Linked DNA regions of Homo sapiens: region 2 is linked to region 1. Evidence: fine-mapped expression QTL. A gene starts in region 1. The other region holds a variant in brackets. All regions are shown on one strand. Distances are between the middles of the regions.

Region 1 (5,376 bases):
ACCCTCCTCCCTGCCAGGAGGTCAGGGGAATAAGCTAGGCCCAGGCAACTGAGTTAGTCTGCCAGGTGAGAGCCCTTTCACACCCAGCACCTCCTGAGACCCCCACCACTTCCAGAAAGGAGACTGGGCTATTAGCCCCACTTTGTCCATATTCTGGGAAACAGAGTAGTGAGAACAATAACTCCAGGCATGGGACCTCACCAGACATGATCTCATATAACCTCCCCAGCAACCCTGCATAGCGATATAGCCTCCATTTTATAGAAAAAGATCCTATGGTCATAGAAGTTAAATGACCTGCCCCCCATTCTGAATTAGCCATGTTAACAGGCACGAGCAATGGCCGAGGAGGGACCGCCCTCCCTCCACTCCTAGCTCAGTGCACTTTCCAGTTACCATGGGACCACAGAGCGACCATCTGATTCTGCGGTTTTAATGATCTGGGTGCAAAGTGCCAGAAAGGGCAGAGGGCTGGCCCAAGTTCACATAGCCTGGGTCCTTTTCAGTTTCTCCAAGGCCCAAGGGAACTTTCTTTAGTATCAGCATTAGGAAACTGGCACTTTGCACAGAATGGGAGAGCAACTTTTCAGAGCAAACGATAGCCTGTCATATTCTCAATCTGTCCCTTTTCTGAGATGATGAGACCATCTGGGCCCTGGGCTCCTCCTCCACATGGAGCAGGCTGTGGGCCATGACAGGAAGCCAATTCCTTGGATTGTTTGTATTAACTGGGATGACCAGGAGGAAGGAGACGACGGGCTGATCTGCAGGGCCTGTGGTTTCAGGTTGAGTTACCAACATCACCTCCTTAACTGGGGTGATAGAGGGCACCAGGAGACTATGCCTCAAGCTTTAACATTTGTTCCTTTGATTTCTCATCGCCTATTCTTCCTGTGTACACGCAGCCATAGGCCGCCTGCAGATTGTCTGAGTGGTTCCGCATTTTTGAACTGGAATAAAGGGCAATTGCTCAGCGGGTTCTCTCCTGCCCTGCATAGGCTTCCTTTTCCGTTTCCTGCTTTCGGGGAACCTCCTCCCCATCTTTGATTCATCTGTGAAATCAGCCTGGAGATGCCTGGGAAAGGGGCAGGGCTGCAGGGAGCAGGCTGGCAGGAATCCAGGAGGGGGATGGAGGGGGCTGGGCTAGGCAGGGCATGGGAATGGAGAAGGGGGTGGATTTGAAGGACACTGCAGAGAAAATCGACACTGCACGGCAGCCTAGGGTCAACTTTCCCAACCCAGAAACCTCAGGTGGGAGAAATCAGTGTGAATTTGCCTCCCTCTCTCTCTCACTCCCTCCTCCTGCAGCCCTCACAGAGAATCCACTGGGAAATAGAAAGGAAAGAGGACATTCTATTCCAGTGAGTCACCAGGTCCCTGAGTCTCTGGCCTGCTCTCCAGCCCCTCCCCACTGCCTCTCCTGGCCCCCAGTCCTTGTCTTCCCCCAATTCCCACCTCAGCTCACAGGCACAGGCTGAAGGCCTCAGAGCCAGGCTTCCTTCCTCGCTGTGGATCCCACTAGCTGTTCACAGAGCATATTCCAACGAGCCTCCAGGCTTCGGCACGTGGGCATCTCTGTTATCCACCCCATTGCAGAGAAGAGGAAAGTGAGACCCCAGCATTCTCCCAAGGCCATCCAACACCCTGCACCCCAGCACCACAGCCTCCACTTTAAAGAACTCCACTCGCTGCCTCCCAGCCCTCCCACCACACACAGGCACCAGCTGGGGCAGGATGGCTGAAAACGCAAGGCTTGGAGAAGAAACCCTGATCCAATTACCAAGGAAACTGGATTCAAGGCAGCCTGTGGATGGGGCTTCCTCGAGTTTCAGAGCTCAGTCTGCCCTGGACATGGGCTGAAAAAAGTACAGGGGCAGAGCCCTGGGGAGCCAGGCTCGCAGCGGCTCCAACCTTCCTCTCCCCGAGGACTGTCCCGCGGAAGGCCAGAGCCCTGCTGGTGCACACAGGACCTGCTGTGGGCAGGGTTTTGTGCAAACCCTGAATCCTCCCTCAGAGCTCAGACAGAGCCCACCCAATTCTTCCCACTCCACAACCAGCCCCTAAGAACCAGACAGAAGCCGCCTGCTCCAGCCACACGCTTCCCATCAGAGAGGGAGGTCCCAGGGCAATGAGGACACAGGCCAGGCAGCTCCCTCCCTCCCACTATGCTGCAATCAAGAGCCTCTTCACAAAAGCTTCTTAGTGGTTTTTATTTTCTTGGACTAAGGCACCGATGAATTGACTGTGCAGCCTCACACTGCCTTCTCCAAACCAAAAGGACATTCTCAGGGCCTCTCCCAGTGCCCTGCCCGCCAGAGGCCTGCAGCAGCCTGATGAGGAGGTCAAGACGGGCACTTCACATCCACTTGTGTGCTGGCTCTGCCAAGACACGCTTGTCATTTCTGGGGCTCACTGGGAGTCACTGTCACAAGACGGGCTGTCCAGCCCCGAAAGAGCACCCTTGCTCTCCACTCCCCAAACCCTTCAGCACTGCAGACCCAGTGTTCCTCCATTCTCTGCTGCCATAGTACACTGGGGCATGCCATGCAAATGCAGCTGGAGCAAGCCCCAGTCTATTGTTCCCCTCGTTCACCCCAGAGATGCATCCTTCCACATGGAAACATGGGGTCCACTTGTCCTGGGAACAGATGGGAGGGCAGGGGCAGCTGCTGTCCACAGGCACCGGCGACAGCAGCCTCAGCGAGCGTGGCGGGGATGGTGGCGGTGGGGGTGGTGGTGGTGGTGGAGGTGGTGAGGGGTGTGGCGGGGGTGGTGGTGGTGGTGGAGGCCCACATTCGGCACATGAGATACGTGGCCAGGATGACGGTGATGGTGAAAGATTCCCAGGTGGCCCCGCCGCCGGAAGGGCCAAGGCTGGGCCCGGCGGACTCGGTTTCCCCCTGCAGCTGTACGGTTCCTCTCCACGTCACAGTCCTGCCGTCCGTGGAAAAGGCAGGTGGCCAGCAGCAGCAGCAGCAGCAGGACCGCCACAGCAGCACCTGTGATCCATCCCACGAGGGCTGTGCTCCCCAGGAGGCCCAGCATCTGGGAGCCGGACAGTCCCTCTCTGCCCAGCAGCTCCTCACTCCTTTCTCCCCTTCAGCAGCCTCCGCTCAGCCCTCTCAGTCACTGAACTTTGTTGTCTCTGCTGCGGGCTGGAGAGCAGCCAGGGAATGTGGGCGAAGCCTGTTTGGACTTGCAACTGCTGGCCAAGGGTGAGGCCAGGCCGCTGTTAACTCTGAGGAGGCCTGGCAGGGAGGCCAGGTGGAGACAGAGGAGCTGTCAGGCTGGATCTGGTTGAGGGAGGAGCCCTGAGTCTAGAGGAAAGAAACCCTCCTGCTGCCTGGCTCAGTGACCTTCCCTCTCCGCACTTCAGTCTCCTCTCGTAGAGACTGTGTAGAACAGAGATGAACAACACGGGCTTTGGAGCCACGCCACTCACTTGCTCTGAGATTGTGCACAAGTTACTTAACCTCTCTGTCCTGTTTCCTCTTCTGTAAAATGGCTGATAACGGTTCCTTCCTCAGTAGGGTGTTCCGAGGACTAAAGGAGTTGAGATGCGTAAAGCAGCAACACCAGCTCCCGTCATGTTTGCAACTGATATTACTGCAATGGACTCCATGGCTCAGGAGACACTGACATCTGAGAGTCTGTGATTCCCTGTCCTGCAGCCTGCAGAGCCCTCCGGGGCTGAGTCAGGCTCTGTCAGATGAGCCATCCCGAGCTCAATGAGCTTGAGAAGCTCAGGGAGGCACCACAGGCAGATTTTGCCATCCAGGGAGGTCCTCCATCCGGCCTGTTCTGGGAGGCAGGAGGGTCTGGGTGTCCTCCCAAGCTTGCTGGGAGGCAAGAAGGAGGCCACTGAGCTCAGAGAGGGCAGGCACAGCCCAGCCTCCTGGTTCCCAGTTCAACAGTCTCAACTGGCCATAAATGGCATGCTCCTTGCTCTGTCACACCCTCCCTGCCCAGCAGTGATGAGTGCCATTCCTGCCTAGTGGAGCATTTACAGAGCGGCAGGATCTGAGCAGTACTGACTGTCCCTCCAAGCCCACCCGCCAGGCCCAAATCCCCTCTGTTCCTCCTGGGAGGCACCGTCCCATCCTGCTGACAGACCTCAGCAACAGGTGCTCACTCTCTCTCTGGGCAACCCTTTCTGCTGTGGGCATGCTGGGCTGTTCTCCAAGCTCTTCCTCACATGCAGTGGGGCTCCCCAAAGCCCCAGCTCTGTGTCTGGCTCTGCAGGGTCCCTCCAGGCTGAGTCCCCAGCCCCTCCCTCCAGGCTCATCTCCCTACCGCCTGGAGGAATGTCTGCAGACACCGCAAGGCTGGTTCTCTGAGTTCTGGCAGCACCTCCACCCTGTGATGTTGGGCAAACCCCTTGCCCTGATCCAGCCTGTCTCCTCTGCAGAACTCCCGGAGCAAGAGGTGACCTCCAGGGACCCTTCCCCCTCTGACCTCAGTCTGAGGTGAGTTCTCTTAGGGAGGCCTCAAACCCTTAATGAAAACCCTCACCAGATGAAAAGGCTAAACATTCCCTTCAACCAAACTGGGCTCAGGGGGCAGCAGGTCTAATGAATCCTGGCACTTCTTTGGCCCTTGGGGGAGCTACTTGAACTTTTAATGATGCTGGAGTAAGAACTCCTCCTGCAGACTCCTGGGGCCCTGGGAGCCCGGCTGCCTTCCCTAGGGAAGTTAAGGAGGGAAGTCTGTTGTGAGGAGGAGGAGGAGGAAGGCAAACAGGGGATTTTCGTCCTCAGAACTTCTCCAGGAAGACTCCCACCCCACACCAGCCGCTGGCGGCGGGGCAGGACCTTACAACTATGAACTTGAAGAACTTCAGTCAGCTCAAACGGCCCCTTGGAATCACCCAGACTCAGCCTTCACTGACAGATGGAGAAACTGAAGCCAGAGAAGGGAAACACTTGCCTAAGTTCTCCCAGCCTCGTGCGCTAATCTATACAGCAGGTACTCAACAGAGCACCATCCCTGCAGTGAGGGAGCCGTCCAGAGTGACAGCCTGAGATCAGCAGGGCCTTCCACAGAGACAGCGGGAAGATGAGGTGGAGATGTGAATAAACCTGGAGGGCGCAGGGGTTGGGAGTGCCCCCTCACACATACACATACACACGACATCTGTTTCCTTAGGTGCAGGTTCACTCTCCATCTGGGTAGTAGGATCCCAAAGTGAACATTTGTTTAGATGCTTTGGGCACTCCTGGGGGCAGTGAGGGACAGCCATTGAGAATACAGTCCTCCATGACTTAACCCATTTATGCCTAAGGTTGCAATTTTTTGAATTTTTGCAATCAGACCTTGGCAATGACCTTGATCAGTATGATAAAAATAACTCCCACATGCTTAGTGTTCCAATAATGG
Region 2 (5,376 bases), 26 kb after region 1:
GACCAAATTTGGGACATAATTTCTGATTTATAAGTTTACTGATATGAAAAGCCATCCAGATTCGTAAAAGTGAAACTATATTTGAGGGTTTCCCTTCATTGAAAATGACATAAAGGTAATTATAAAGCTTAGAGAAAGGGACAGGTCAGTGAATGGACTGTTGGATTCTGAGAGGGTAGATTCTTTTAACACAGATATGATCTCTTTCCTCAGGGTCTCCTAGCAAAGAGAAACTAACAGAACCCAAGGAGGCAAAACAGATGGTTACATAACTCGGGCACGCAGATTTTATGTCTACCAGATTCCTAGATCTGTGATCCTGCTGCCTGAGCCCTGGAGTCCAGGATTTCACAGCTATTTCAAACCCCATCCCCAAAGGTCACAGAGAAGGGCCTGATGGCCACCAGGGGGAGCCCAGGAGCTGAAGCAGATCAGCTCACCTGAAATCAATCCAGCATCCATGCATGACAAGAATAAAAAACATAAGGAAGAAGAACGGTTTATCCCAGAAATACAAAGATAATTCAACATTAGGAAAAAAAACACATTAATATAAATCACTTTATTAACATATTAAAAGGAGAGGAGCCATATGGTTATGACAAAGTAAAGACCCGAATTGATGGAAAGACAAAAAACAATGTTCTTGGATGAGAAAACTTGATTTTGTAGGGATGTCAATTCCATCCCAAATTAGCCAATAAATTACAAGCAAAATCCCAGGAGAATTTTTGTGAAATGTGACAAGCTGATTGCAAAATTTATCTGGAAAAGAAAATGTGCAAGAATAGCCAAAAAATGATTGAAAAAGGCTGGTAAGAGAGGATTTCGCCTAGCAGATATCAACATAAAGCTACAAATCACTATAAAGCCATAGTAATTAAAACAGTGTGACATGAGGACAGAAAGACAATAAAATTTCTTTAGAACATAACACTAGGTCCAGAAAGAGACTAATAAATTTGTGAGAAATTCGTATATGAGAAAGGTGGCATTTTTTAAATCAATGAGAAAAGAATGACCTCCATAATAAATTTTATTGTGGCAAGTAAATAAGTTTACTTATCCTACCTCACTCACTCAATAAGTAAATTCCAGATAAAATAAAAGTTAAATTGAAAAGTAAAACTTTTAAATCATTAGAAGAAAATACAGAAAGGCGAATGTACTTAAAACCTTGGGGATATTACACAAGAGACAACGAAAAAGAAATTTGCTACCCCAAATAATTAAACTTCTATGTAACAAAAGATATCATACACAAATAAAAAAGGTAACTGACATAAAATGTTTGCCACATATATAATACACAAAGAAATACTATAGAGACTATATAAAGAATTTCTAGAAATCATTATTTTCAAAATTAGAAAAATGAGCATAAAATATGAAGAGATAATCAACAGAAAAAAATTTTAATGGCAAAAAATGACAAATAGAATTATTATTAACATTTTTAGTGATCAGGGAAATGTAAAATAAAACAGCAAGATATCCTTTTTCACCCATTGTAATACAAAATTTAAAAGACTGAGGCCAGGTGAGGTGGCTCAAGCCTGTAATCCCTGAACTTTGGGAGGCTGAAGGGGGAGGATCACTTGAGATCAGGCATTCAAGACCAGCCTAGGCAAATAACAAGACTCCATCTCTAAAAAAAAATTAAAATAATCATCAGGGTGCGCTGGCATGCTCCTGTAGTCCTGCTTACTCGGGAAGCTGAGACATGCGGATCACTCACGCCCAAGAGTTCAAGGTTACAGTGAGCTATGATTGCACCACTGCGCTACAGCCTGGGCAACAAAGCAAAATTCCATCTCTTTAAAAGTTTAATTTAATTTAATTTTAACTTAAAAATAAAAAATAAAAGACTGATAACACCCAGTATCAGTCAGGATATGGAGAAATGGGTACTGTTATATTCTTGGTGGAGATTTAAATTAAGACAACATTTCTGAGGGCAATTTAGGGCATCTTTCAACAATTTAAATAAACATACCTTCAATCCAATAACTTCCTGTCAAAATATCTATCCTAGAGAAGTATCTGTACATGTGCCAAAGAGTCATGTAAAATGATATGATTTGCAGCATTGTTTGCATGGCCAAAGAAAACATGAGATACAACCTAAATGTCTAACAACAGGAAATACTCAAATAAGCTATAATATATTCACACAATAGAATATTACATATAACTTACAAAGAAACAATTATATAAAAATATCTACGGTCGGGCGCGGTGACCCACACCTGTAATCCCAGCACTTTGGGAGGCCGAGGCAGGTGGATCACCTGAGGTCAGGAGTTTGAGACCAGCCTGACCAGCATGGTGAAACCCCGTCTCTACTAAAAATACAAAAATTAGCTCGGTGTGGTGGTGCATGCCTGTGGTTCCAGTTACTTGGGAGGCTGAGGAGAATCGCTTGAACCTGGGAGCCGGAGGTTGCAGTGAGTCGAGATCACGCCACTGCACTCCAGCCTGGGCACCAAGAGTGAAACTCCATTCTCTCTCTCTCAATCTCTCTCTCTCTCTCTCTCTCTATGTATATATATATATGTGTATGTGTGTGTGTGTGTGTGTGTGTATATATATGTATATATGTGTGTATATATATGTATACATATATTATATATGTGCATATACATATGTGTATATATGTATACACATATGTATATATGTGTACATACACATTTACATATATATACACAAGACATGGTATATTGTTAAAAGCAAGCCTCACATATTAAAGAAAGACACAGAAGATTTTTAAAGACCCAAATAAAACTTTTAAAAATAAAAAAATACAATTTTTGAGATTAAAAAAAAATCAAATGGATGAATGCAACATGATATCCTGGATTGGATCCAGGAACAGAAAAAGGATATTTGTGGGAAAACTGGGAAAATTTGAATAAAGCCTGTAGTTTAATTAATAGTGCCAATTATGTTTAGTTAATAGTGCCAATTATGTTTAGTTGTGTCACTGCTAATTTCTGAGTTTTGATGAACATTTCATGGCTATATAAGATGTTCACATTAGGAGAAGTTGGTTGAAAGTTATTCAGGAAATCTACATCCTATCTTTAGAACTCTTCTGCCAATCTAAGATTATTTCAAAATTTAAAACAAATTTCAAATATATTAGATGGAATTAATAGCAGACTAGAACCTACAGCAGAAAATATTAGTAAACTTGATACCATAGCAATATACATTAACCAAAATAAAATACACAAAAATATAAATAAATAAA[A/G]TATCAGTGAGCTTTGGGACTTCAAGTAGCCTAATATAGGTACAACTAGAATCTCAGGAAAAGAAGCAATGGACAGAAAAAAAATGATCAAAATTTTTCTACACTTAAAAAAACCTACAAAATCATAGATCCAAAAACCTCAACAAAGCCCAAGCAGAAGAACAAGAAGACAGCTACAAAATCATAGATCCAAGAATCTCAACAAAGCCCAAGCAGAAGAACATGAAGACAGCTACACCAAGGCATATTATAATACTATTGCTTTAATCAGCGGTAAAGAGAACATCTTAAAAGCAATCATAGAAAAAGACACGTTATATACAGAGGAACAAACAAGAATGACAGCAGTCATTGTCAGAAACAATGCAAGCCAGAAGACAGTAGCGCAATATCTTCAAAATGGTAAAAGGAAAATTAAACTGTCAGAATTCTATACTAAGCAAAATACCTCTCAATACTGAAGTTAAATAAAAATATTTTCAGACATACAAAATTTGAAAGATTTTATTACCAACAGTCCAGATCTATAAGAATGTTAAAAGAAGTCCTTCAGGTGGAAGAAAAATGTTATCAGAAGAAAATACCTATCTATACCAGGCAATAAAGAGCCCTAGAAATGGTGAATATGTGAATAAATATAAAATATTTTTACTCTAATTTTTAAACCTTTTAAAACATAGCTTGGATGTGGCCAATAGGAAGCTAATAATTTTTTTAAAGGAAGGAATATATGGCATAGTTGACTATTGGAAGCAAAAGTAATAAGGTATTATAGAATTTTAACAGATGTGGAATTACAATATATAACAACAATAGCTCAAAACCCAGATGAGGGGAAGTGAAAGGGCATTGTTGCGACATTTATATACTATAGGTGAGGTGGTATTACATTAATTAAAGGTAGATTAAAAGAGGAACAAATAACAGATGGAACAATAGAAAACAAACAGCCAGATGAAATATTTAAATCCAACTATGTCCCTGGTCATTTTTAATGCAATTGGTCTAAGCATCTAAATTAAAGGGCAGAGATTGTCTGATTAAATTTTTAAAGATCCGGCCGGGCACAGTGGCTCACGCCTGTAATCCCAGCACTTTGGGAGGCCGAGGCAGGCAGATCACGAGGTCAGGAGATTGAGACCATCCTGGCCAACATGGTGAAACCCCGTCTTTACCAAAAATACAAAAATTAGCTGGGCCTGGTGGCACGTGCCTGTAATCCCAGCTACTCAAAGGAGGCTGAGGCGGGAGAATGGTGTGAACCCAGGAGGCAGAGCTTGCAGTGAGCCGAGATCACACCACTGCACTCCAGCCTGGCGACATAGCAAGGCTCCATCTCAAAAAAAAAAAAAAAAAAAATTAAAGCTCCAATTCTATATTAATAGCAGACAAAGTAGATATTAGAGCAAAAACATTAACAGGGATAAAGAGGGTCATTTGAAAATGACAAAGATGTCAGTTCATCAAGATAACATAACAGTCCTAAAAGCTTATATATCTAATGACAGAGCCTCAAAATACATAAAGCAAGACCTGATAGAACTGAAAGGAGGAATAGACAAATCTGTAATTGCAGCCAAAGATTTCAACATCCCTGTCTCAGTAGTTGAAAAATAAGTAGACAGAAAATTAGTAAGAATATAGGAGACTTGGACAATACTTTCATCCAACTTAATTGATATTTATAAAACCCTTCACCCAATAACAGCAGAATACCGTGGAAAAAGACAGCTAAGGAAAATCCTCCTGGGGTCAAAACAAACCTCAAAGACTGGCCTCAAAAATACTCCTGCCCAAATTTAATTGGATCAGACTGTGGCACAATGTATTCCCCATCACATGATCAAAAACAATAAAGCAATCAGATGACAATTTGTGGAGCCTAACACTGGCTGTGATACCAGCAGAAGTAGATACTTTTACAAATAGATCAGGAAAAGCAACAGTCAAATGGCTCTGCTAAAACCACTGTTATCCCAGGGTGTGAATGTGCACATATCCAAGGCTACATACAGCCTCTGAGGAAAGACAGAGGCTTCGTGCTGTGGGATAATAGACTAAATTAAATAGTCTAGCCAAGTCAGGAATAAAGAAGTAAAAAATAACAAAAGCAAGCTACAAAG

The links. PIP is the estimated chance that this variant, and not a neighbour inherited with it, causes the effect.
Region 2: its variant is fine-mapped to the expression of HRCT1 in lung (TOPMed, PIP above 0.99).

The regions. Positions count from the first base shown.
Region 1 is chr9:35,903,957-35,909,332 of GRCh38, reverse strand. It overlaps HRCT1 (histidine rich carboxyl terminus 1), which reads right to left and starts at 3,131. Exons shown (of 1, transcript NM_001039792.2): 1 at 2,197-3,131. The coding sequence starts at 3,045. The coding sequence ends at 2,698. LOC124902149 (a long non-coding RNA gene) reads left to right here and starts at 3,663. Exons shown (of 3, transcript XR_007061471.1): 1 at 3,663-4,965. RefSeq lists an enhancer at 3,584-4,465.
Region 2 is chr9:35,877,460-35,882,835 of GRCh38, reverse strand. No RefSeq gene overlaps it. Among named protein-coding and RNA genes, the nearest start is that of OR13J1, 9.7 kb to the right of the region's middle. The variant A/G (reference allele first, on the strand shown) is at 3,254.